Regions from separate parts of the Homo sapiens genome. Here region 2 is linked to region 1. The links come from fine-mapping of genetic effects on gene expression. A gene starts in region 1. The other region holds a variant in brackets. All regions are shown on one strand. Distances are from middle to middle.

What was found. PIP is the estimated chance that this variant, and not a neighbour inherited with it, causes the effect.
Region 2: its variant is the best candidate, but not a certain one, in a credible set for the expression of SLC66A1 in monocytes (Schmiedel 2018, PIP 0.56).

What each region holds. Positions count from the first base shown.
Region 1 is chr1:19,309,446-19,314,445 of GRCh38, forward strand. It overlaps SLC66A1 (solute carrier family 66 member 1), which reads left to right and starts at 2,881. Exons shown (of 8, transcript NM_001040125.2): 1 at 2,881-3,444. AKR7A2 (aldo-keto reductase family 7 member A2) reads right to left here and starts at 2,699. Exons shown (of 7, transcript NM_003689.4): 1 at 2,382-2,699. The coding sequence starts at 2,679. RefSeq lists an enhancer at 2,290-2,789 and silencers at 2,381-3,020, 3,101-3,190.
Region 2 is chr1:19,348,240-19,353,749 of GRCh38, forward strand. The region is part of intron 6 of CAPZB (capping actin protein of muscle Z-line subunit beta); the gene reads right to left. Among named protein-coding and RNA genes, the nearest start is that of SLC66A1, 39 kb to the left of the region's middle. RefSeq lists an enhancer at 5,004-5,510. The variant A/AAAAGTT (reference allele first, on the strand shown) is at 2,372.

The DNA of each region.
Region 1 (5,000 bases):
AGCTTAGAAGGCAAACTGAGCAGAATGTAATTATAATTCTCCCCTCCCCTTCCTGACTCACAGAAGCATGAGCATATATCCAAACACTGTAGGGACACATCGCTATGACAACAGTGTTCTGCATCCGAGCAGCTTGGAAATGAGTTAATTCTGCACTATTCTTTCCCCTATAAAGAACCCCAGCTGTTGGTCCAGATGTAGTGGCTCAAGTCTGTAAACCTAGTTTGGGAGTACTTTGGGAGGCTGAGTAGGGAGAATTACTTGAGCCCAAGAGTTTGAGATAATCCTGGACAATGTAGCAAGACCCTCCCTCTACAAAAATAAAAATTAAAAAAGAACCCCAGCTGGGCCAGGAAAGGTAGCTCACGCCTGTAATCCCAGCACTTTCGGAGGCTGAAGTGGGTGGATCACCTGAGGTCAGGAGTTCGAGACCAGCCTTGGCCAACATGGTGAAACTCTGTCTCTACTAAAAATACAAAAATTAGCCAGGCGTGGTGGCACGTGCCTGTAACCCCAGCTACTTAGGAGGCTGAGGCAGGAGAATCACTTGAACCTGGGAGGCAGAGGTTGCAGTGAGTCCAGATTGTGCTACTGCACTCCAGCCTGGGCGACAGAGTGAGACTCTGTGTCAAAAAACAAAAAACAAAACAAAAAAAAAGAACCCCAGCTGTCTGGATTGGTTGGGGGATGGATTCTGCACTTTTCATACTTAGCAAAGTCAGCTCAGTAGCTCAGAAGGGTGTCACGAGATCAGTTGGGATATGGGACAGAACAAGTTCCACAGTTTCTCATCCAGATTTTCTCCATTTCCCCACAACGCCCCAGGCATTCTTGGCATGAACTGTGCCTCAGGCCTGGCCTGAGGACTTTGGTTCAGTGAGCTCCTGGCCCCAAAGACGGAAGCGGGGAAGGGTTAGAGAAGAAAAACCAACTCAGGAACAAAATCTTCATTATTAATAGTATGTAACGTGGCCGGGCGTGGTGGCTTACACCTATAATCCCAGCACTTTGGGAGGCTGAGGTGGGCAGATCACTTGAGGTCAGGAGTTGAAGACCAGCCTGGCCAATATGGTGAAACCCCATCTCTACTAAAAATACAAAAATTAGCTGGGCGTGGCCGTGTGCACCTGTAATCCCAGTTACTTGGGAGGCTGAGGCAGAGGTTGCAGTGAGCTGAGATCGTGCCATTGCACTCCACCCTGGGTGACAGAGCAAGATTCCGTCTCAAATAATAATAATAACAAAAACAACAACATGCAGCCAGGTGAACTAGAAACAGCGTGGGCCTGAGATTCACATTTGCCCTCTTTTCCCCCCGACCCCCCAAGCGCTATGACTCAGGAGGACCCAGAGAGAACCTCTCCTCAGGGGTGGGGAGCAACAGCCTCAGGATAGTCCAGTGGGTGAAGCATGGTAAGGGTAACAGCCCACGTTCCCTGGGCCCTCACTGAGTGCCAGGCACCCTCCCAAGGGCTATCAAGGGCACCAGGCTCACGAGGGACAGTCCCCTCCATCCTCCACTCAAGCCCCACCTGCCCAGTGGCCTTCCTTTCACACATCACGCACATTGCATTTCCAAACCAAGTCTTTGCACAGACTCTAATGTTCCTTTCTCTTGTTCTCCTCCAACCTACCATTGAGCCTTTAAGGCTGAGCTCCATCCAGCATTTGCTGAGCCTTCCCTAGTGCCTCTCCCCGGCCTGCAGCTCCCTAAAGTACTCTCTCTTCTGGGCTCTCCAGCAATCATTACTTCAATCTTCCTCATTAGACTCTGAACTCCCTGTGGAGGGCTGGAATCACTTTCCCTCCTATGGCCCCAAGTCAAAGCCTGGCATAGAGTGGATAGAAAGTCCCTACACCCTGACCCGTCCGCACTCCCTAACACTCCTACTCTCCCAGCCAGCCTTACGGCATCGCCACAGTTCTCCCTGAGAGAGGCAGAGGTACTGCCAGCTGCACAGGTCAAATTCTAGTGGTTAAGAAAAGGCCAGGATGAGAAAAGGGTGCCCAGGGTGTGCATGCGTGATGATGGTAACGAAGGGGTAGAGAAAAGGGGGAGAGCCTGGGTGGGGACCGGTTGTGGGCACCTGGCAGGTTTGGAGGCGGGGGCATCAATGGAGGTGGGAAGCGATGGGTCAGACCAGGCTGGGGGGAGACTCTCGCGCTGCAACTCCCAAGGGAAGGAGAGTGGGGGAAAGGAGTCAGGGCAAAGCACTGTCTAGTTGTCCCGGGGTTCCCAGAGCTGCGGGGTGGACCTGGGGTGGGGAGCGAGGGACGAATCCGTCGGTGCTGCCCGCGGCCGGGCCCGAGCGGGGTGGTGCACGGCTGGGGACAGGCTCAGCTCTACACGATGCATGGGGAGGATCTGCAGCTACTGTTACCTCTGCAGTCGCCACCGCCCAGCCCGAGCCCCAGGCCGCCCAGGATGGTCTCGGACTGGCCGTCGCTGTACATGAAGGCCGTGTCCAGTTCGGTGTGGCCGCGCTCCAGAAAGGCGCGCACGGCCGCGGCGCTGGCGGGCGCGTCCATGCGGCGCCCCATCTCCATGGTGCCCAGCACCGAGGCGACCCGCGGTGGCGGTGGCCGGGACATGGCGAGCGCGCGGGCCTCGGGCGGCGGAGAGCGAAGCGCGCAGTGGACGGCGGCGCGGGAGACTACGCGAGACGCGGCACTCAGCATAGCAGCGGCGCCTGCGCGTTGGGAGCCGGGGGCCCCGCCCATGCCGGGGAGGAGCGCGGAGGCAGTTGGGGGCGGGGACAACAGGCGCGGCCCCAGCGGCGCCTCCAGGCCCGGTCAGCCCAGCGCGCGGCGTGGGGGCGGGGCCTGCGGTTCCCGCGGGGGCGGTGGCGCGCGGTCAGCTGACCCGGCGGGCCTTGACCCAGAAGCTGGGCCCTGGCGGCGGATCTGGACGTGGTGAGCCGGACCGGGGGCAGGTGGCAAACTTCACGGCTGGGGGTCGGGGCTCCTGGGCTTCCCTGCCACATCCTTCCAGCCCTCTCCTCCGGCCGCTGGACTGTCCCGGCTCCTGCGCCCTCCTTGTGGCGCGATATCGTGGGACGAGGCTCCGGGCCGGGACTGGGTGGCCCTCGGGAATCCGCAGCCAGTGGCCCCCCACCTCAAAGGCGACCAGCGCGGCCTCTCGAGCTGGCCTGGCCAGGAGTTGCCCTGCCCCGGCCGACCGGCCCCTTGGCATCTGATGGCTTCGTTTTTCCCGGGCCGGCCGGGCGAGGGGCCCTCGCGGCGCTGGCCCCAGCAGCTGTCCTATCATTATCCCTCCAAACAGGCGGCCCGCGCCGGGCTGAGTCACCAGGAGGGAGCTGTGGCCGAGGACGCCGAGGCCTGGAGTGGGTGGTAGCCCCGAGCTGGGACGCTCCTCCCTCCACAATCTCCCCAGGTCTGCAGGGACCGAGGGCCTACACTGCCTCCTCCCACGCCGTGCTTAGGGTAGGTTTCCAAACGTGTAAATGGAGAGTCTGAGTCTGGAAGTGTGAGGGGTCCCGGGCCTGGGTCACAGGTCATGTCTAATCAACGCTTACTGAAGGCGCCTGTGTGCCCGGACGCTGGAGGGGCTACAATGAGAACAAATAATAGTCATTTTGGGCTGTTGGTGTTGAGTGCCAGTGCCAGGCACCCTTGTAATCGCTTGGCCTGGATTGTCTCATTTAACTCTGCAGTCAGCCTAGGTGGTGGGTATTGCATTATTCCCCTACTTTTCAGATGAGAACTACGAAGCTCAATCACTTGAGTTCCAGACTGGTAGGCATCGGGCAGGTCTGTTCCAGAGTGCTTTTCTCCTCAACCCTGGGCTGTTCGAGCTCACAGCTTTCTCCCCTTCCTTTCTCCTTTCCTTCCTCTTCTCTCTCTTCCACCCTTTCTCCTTTCTCACCCGTTTCCTCTCTTCTTCACTCTGTCCTTCTCTCTACCTCTCTCTTTCTCTCACTGTCTCTCAACATTTGCTGAACCTCTAGGTGTGTTTACACCTGGAGAATAAGAAATGCACAACCCAGGGTGGGGAGAGTACGTTTCAAAGACAGTGGTCGCAGAGGACGGTGGTAGCGTTCTTCAGGTGTGTGGACAAGGGGAGAGGAGGAGGTGGAAGGTCCTGTCCAGCCAGCTCTCATGGGGCATCTTTGAAAGGGCAATTTAGAAGTGAGTCTTCTTATCTCATGACCAGGCCCTTGAAGGGGAGCAGGACACTTCTAGGGGAAGAGATGGCACGTGCAGAAGCCTGGAGACCTGAAATGACTGAAGACGTGGGTCAGGAGGCAGGAGATAAGGTTGGGAGGGCAGTTCTTGGAGTAACTTGAGGCCTAGCCTCAGGTAATTTGGACTTCATCCTGTAGACAAAGGTGGACACATGATTGGCTGTGATCATGTGCCCGAAGCACCCTGACTCAGCTTGGGATCAGGGAGAGGAGTTTGGGTGTGGCAGGAGATGTCATCTCCAGCCCAACCTTTCTCAAAGTGCACTAGATGGAGCAGAATCGCTGGAGGGCTTCTTAAACCCAGAATCTCTAAGCCCCAGCCCAGGTGCACTGACTCCAAATTTTGAACATGCACCCTCCAAGGGTGATTCCAGGGTACCGCTTCTGGGGTCCTTCCCATCCCTGCAGGTGAGGTCAAGCTCCATTGCAACCTTGGACATCCATTTGCTCAGAGCTGTTTGAACAGGATGTGGGCCCATGCCTGGCTTCTAGGTGACAGGAACTACGCAGGATGGCCCTCAGAGCCAGGCCTTTCTGTTCAGGGATCAGGTGTGTCTCAGAGTGTCCCGAGCTCCACATTGCACATGGGTCCTGTCCAAGGTCAGGGGGACACCCACCCAGTATCCTGGATCCATAAACCAAGGTACCTTCCTCAAGACAACTCCCCAACACGCACGCATACTGGGGTGCATCCATTTCATTTCCTCCTTAACCTAGGGAAAGGGGGAAGTGAGAGAGAGGCCGCAGGGGCCATAAACCAAGGTACCTTCCTCGAGACAACCCCCCAACACACAC
Region 2 (5,510 bases), 39 kb after region 1:
GGCTGGATTCAGTTTAGGGCACTTTTTTTTTTTTAATTTTCTTTTAAAAGACAAGGAGGTCTTGCTATGTTGCCCAGGCTAGACAGGAACTCCTGCAATCCTCCCACACAGCTGTAACTACAGGTGTGTGCCACTGTACCCTGCTAAGGCACTGGGTTTTAAAAGCCTTGAATGAGTTAGCATTCATCTGCTTAAAAGGTCTGAACACCCTGACACCAAGAAATGGGAGAGAACTAGGGCTATCCAGGCCTGGCGGTGGTGGGTGGGGAGGGATGTGTGTGTGCTAGGGGAGACACAAGAGATTCTGGCAGGGCTCTGAAGGCCTGCTGTCTGCCAGGGGAACAGACCCAACCTATGTCGCTGTAGATGGCAGAGGGGGGACCGAGCAGTGAGAGAACATCACGGCTCACTGGGCTGGACTCGGTCTGTTCTGATAGAGCTGTCCCTGACAGGCATCTGCTCACAAAGCAATGTGGTCTGGGAGACCGACGGGTCTGAGAAAACGGGTGGCATCTGACAAGGGGGGGGGGCGGTCTAGGTGAGGGCAACAGTCCAGAACCTGCTGCCTCCCAAGTCATAACAGTAAATATCTGCAGAAAAAAGACATCTGGTTCTGGCAAGGCTGTTTTACTGAGGACTAGTGGAAAAGAGGGAGAGAAATGCTAGAAAGACCGGCTTCTCTGCTCCCATCTGTCTTGGCATGCTCTGGCAAGTCATCCTGAGGAATCTCGACCCTCAGACCCCAGGGGGTCTCCATAAAACAGGAGTAGTGAGAGTGCCCATGAGCTTGAGAGTCACAGTTCTCATTTCAGGTCTAATAAACACACCAACCTCGGCAGCACTGGAGCGTCTGCTGGAACATCATCTTTATCTGCCACTAGCAAAACCCTGGTGCCAAGACGACGGGGTGGGCTGTCTGCTCAACAGGAGCTGGGGAGCACCCTCAGGAGGGAGGGGGCTCCATCCACCCAGCTTCAAAAAGAACTTTTGCATGCTGGCCCCCGGGGACTGTGTGTTCTCCCAGACGTGAAGGTGGTTACTGTGCCTAGGCTCAGGGCTGGGTGGAGTCAGCTCGGCAGGCAGGGAAGCCTGGGGGTTGGATGGAAATGAATGAGGTCCTTCCAGCAAATCAGAGTCTCTCCTCCTCCCCGGCTCCATGTGGACGGCAGATTCCCGGCCACCCTAGGGAAGGGATGAGGGTTTTGAGCTCACTGTGGGCCCCATTTTAAATGGGCACCAACAGCCCAAAGAGAGGCCGCGGCCATCGGCAAAGGTCCTGGGTCACCTGGGCAAGTCCAGTCACATCAGCAATTTGGCCTCTTGGTTACCATCTTTGTGTTTCAGAATCAAGAGCCATCTTAAAACAAACAGGCGAAACCCCTTGGCCAACAAAGGTAGGAGAGGTCGGGTGGAGGAGAGGGCTGGGTCTTGCAGTGTGCGACACTGTCCCCAGGAGCAGACTGATCCCCTAGAACACAGGCCCCCTCAGCCCATGGCAGGGAAGCTGAGCCCACGTAAATGGCCACGCAGCGGCTGGGGAGGGAAGGAGAAAGGTGCTTGGGGAGTGAGGGGCACAGGGCTCGGTGCACCCGGCCGTATTTCCACAGCCCCCTTGCCCGCCCCTGCTCACTCCCCTCCACACCTGGTCAGGGTCGGCTCGGTGGCAATACCAACCCACCAAAAACAGAACCATTTGTGCACTGCATATATTATTACATCCTTATAAAAGTGGCTGCCGGAAGGAAAACATTTTCATGTGTTGTGGCTGCAGATGTTCCACGAGGTGGTTCCAATGGCGTCTGAAGCCGGAGCCTGGCCCGTGTGTCCCCAGCAGGCGCCTCTCCTCCTCCCCATGGCCCTAACACAGGCAAGTGTTTGGAAGCTGGCAGCCTTTCCCCCAGAGGGGATGTATTACACCTCCCACTGCCACGTGGCATCTTCTAGCGCGACCCGCAGGGCGTGGCCCTAAGGCATGGGCCCCACTCACCGGCGCTGAGGCCCCGCAGCTCCTGTGCTGCAGCCCGAGAGGAAAGGGCCTGGGCTTGTCTAGGCCTCCATGTCTTTGCCTTCACCTCGCACTAAATAAACAAATGTACACAAAAGGCCTAGAGCGGGACTTGCCAGAATGGCAGCTCTCACCGATTGTCAAAGCACAGCTCCATCCCCAGCACTCTTCTGGCCTCTGGCATCCTCCTGGTCACCACACTGTGCTGTGGGTTGGAGGTCAGGACCCGGCGTGCAGCCAGGCCAGAAGATGGTGGTCAGACGGCTTCCCAGGGAAAGTTACGGTTGCCCAGTTTAGGAAAATTTTGAATCTAGAATTGTACATATTCAAAAAGCCTCTCCTTGCAAGATATATGGTAGTAGCAGT[A/AAAAGTT]ATTGTTTTTATTTTTATTTTTGAGACAGGGTCTGGCTGTGTTGCCCAGGCTGGAGCACAGTGTTGTCACCACGGCTCACTGCAACCTCGGCCTCCCAGGTTCAGGCCATCCTCCCACCTCAGCCTCCTGAATAGCTGGGACTACAGGCACACTGCTGCCTCACCTGGCTAATTTTTGTATTTTTTGTAGAGAGATGGGGTCTTACTTTGTTGCCCAGGCTGGTCTCAAACTCTCGAGCTCAAGTGATCTGCCTGCCTTGGCCTCCCAGTGTTGGGATTACAGGCATGAGCCATCGCGCCTGGCAAAAGTTATTATTTATTGAGCATAAAACTGTGTGTAAAACAGTTTTTTGTTTCTACTCTACAATGATCTTTCCTTTTTTTTTTTTTGAGATGGAGTCTTGCTCTGTCGCCCAGGCTGGAGTGCAATGGCGCGATCTTGGCTCACTGCAACCTCTGCCTCCCGGGTTCAAGTGATTCTCCTGCCTCAGCCTCCTGAGTAGCTGAGATTACAGGTGCATGCCACCACACCCAGCTGATTTTTGTATTTTTAGTACAGATGGGGTTTCACCGTGTTGGTCAGGCTGATCTCGAACTCCTGACCTCGTGATCCACCTGCCTTGGCCTCCCAAAGTGCTGGGATTACAGGCATGAGCCACTGCACCCGATCTTTCCATTTTTTTTTTTTAATAAAATTTGTTTATTATGTTTTTTAGAGACAGGGTCTTGCTCTGCTGCCCAGGCTGGAATGCAATGGTGCAATCATAGCTCACTATAACCTCAAACTCCTGGGCTCAAGTGATCCTCCCATCTCAGACTCCCAAGAAGCTAGGACCACAGATGCCACCCTACCCAGATAACTTTTTGTTTTGTTGGGAGGGGTGAAGGGGTGGGGGGCAGTGCAACTGTTGCCCAGGTTGGTCTTGAACCCCTGGCCAAACAATCTTCTTGCCTCAGCCTCTCAAAGTGCTGGAACTATTATCTTTCAAAATGGGCATTATCAACACTGAGTTTCAAAGAGGTGGAGGTCTGTCTAGGTCACACAGCTGGAAAGTTCCTGAGCTAGGATCTGAATCAAGGTCTGGGTGATTCTGAAACCTGCTTCCTTTTATGAGATCTCTCTGCTGGCTCAATTTCACATACATCCTTTACCAGAAAACTGAAGGACAAACCACAATCCAGGGCTCAGAAAACCTGAGCAGGGTCCATCCCTGCCTCAGCCGCCTCCTGCCAGGGATCTCCGGTCCCTTCGTCTCCTGTTTCCGCCCTTCACAGCACGGGATGGTTGTGGGGAGCCTGTCTCAGGCCAGCTTTCCTTCTCAGCCAGGCACTGGTCACTCCACCCCAGGTCATCTGGCAAAAACCCAGACGCCCCTTGAAGCTGCGCTGCTCAAGCATCTCCACCCCTGAACCCAGGCAACCCCACAGGACACGAGGAGCGGGTGTGCAGCTGCAGCCAGGCCTCCCCAGCGAGCGTGCACTCCTGGAACTGCCAAGCTGGGCCCGGCCCACCCTCTGTTCCCTGCATCTGGAAGGGCAATGGGCTTCTTCCCTGTGACAAAAATATACTGCCTGGCCTAACTGCCAAACGCAAGTCAAAGAGGATGTTCCTGCTAGGATACACAGGCAAGTGCCTCTACTGGGGATTTACTGCCTGAAGATATATTGGGGGTGTCTCTGCTGAGTGGGGAGAGACTGCTCACTAGCCAATGACCTGCCTGATCTCCCCACTCAACAAAACATTCCACCTTCATTTCTAAATATTTAGAAGCTGAGAAAATATCAAACGAACATCTGCAGGGCCCTTCCCCGGATGGGAAACCTTGGATCTCTTTCCAGAGATTTACAATCTCGCCTCTTTCCCACGTCTCTGCTGTCACATAGGAGAAGTGACCTCTCAGTACAACTTCCTTTTCAACATTTTGGAACTTGGGGCTTGCAACCTTTTTTCGCTTGCTCTACAACCCTCCCATGGGGGGCCACGTGGCAGTGTACCAGAGGGTACCTTCTGCCCGCCTTTCCTCACACACATCCACAAGCCTGGGCAGGAAGGTATGATCCGGCCGGCCTGCGGCTCACCTTCACTCCGACAGCCTCACTGCTGCGGGAATTTGCCAGAATACTTTAGCTGTTTACCTTGTCTTCCAGTTGACGTCCCTGAGAAACATCTTTTGGTGGTTGGAGGTGGGAGAAGTAAAAGCCGAAAATGATGGAGGCAGGGCTAGGTGGAGGCAGCATCGCCTGGTCTGGCTGTGTTCTGGCTGGCTGGCAGGCCACGTGCCCAGGAGAGTGGCGCTCTGCCCCGGCCACTGGCCTACCACCAGCCGCCTACACTGGGGCACGAGTGGGCACAGGGCATAGCCTGATGTGCCCACGGAAGGGACCCCTGCGAGGTGCCAGCAAGCCAAAGCTGGCGGCCTTCTCCAGATGGGCCGTGGGAAACAGGAAGACAAGGGTGCGCCCGGGGCCACACACAGGGAAGGGCAGCTGCCGCTGCTGCCGGGGTGAGGCAGGCTGGGCCACAGGACCCTGGGAAAGCTGAGGACCCATGGGGCCTTGCTGAGGGTGCTGATGCTGGCTGGGATGGCTCTTGGGGCTAGGGCCTGGCACTGTGGGCCTGGGGAGACAGCTCCAAAACCAAGCAGCCTTCCTTCCTGACACACGTGGGGCAAGGGCATGTGAGCGTGGGTGACCTGGATGAGGCCAGGTTTCCAGAGGAAAAACCCAGGCCCAGGTTGCTGTAAGGACTGTGTAAGGAGGAACTCGAGTGAGGGGCTCTCATCTGACCCCCACCTCACATCTTGGTCGTCCAGCCCCTGACCACGCCACGCCAGAATGCCCCCCAGCCTGCCCCTCTTCCCCTGCCCTTCTGTTTCTGCCCTTGCCACCTCATGCCTCAGACTGACACTAGCTTCTTCACTGACCTCTCTGCTGCAGGGCTGTCCCCTCTGACCCTCCCAGGGCTGCCTGATCCAGGCCCTTGTCATCTCTCTCCTTGATGACTGTAACAGCTTCCCCCTGACCACCCATCCCCCAAGCCGACTGGCAGAGCCACCTTCTGAAAACACAGATCCAATCAGATCATTGGACTCCCTAGAAACCTCAAAGCCCTCCTGACAGCCTCTAGTAGTGAACACAC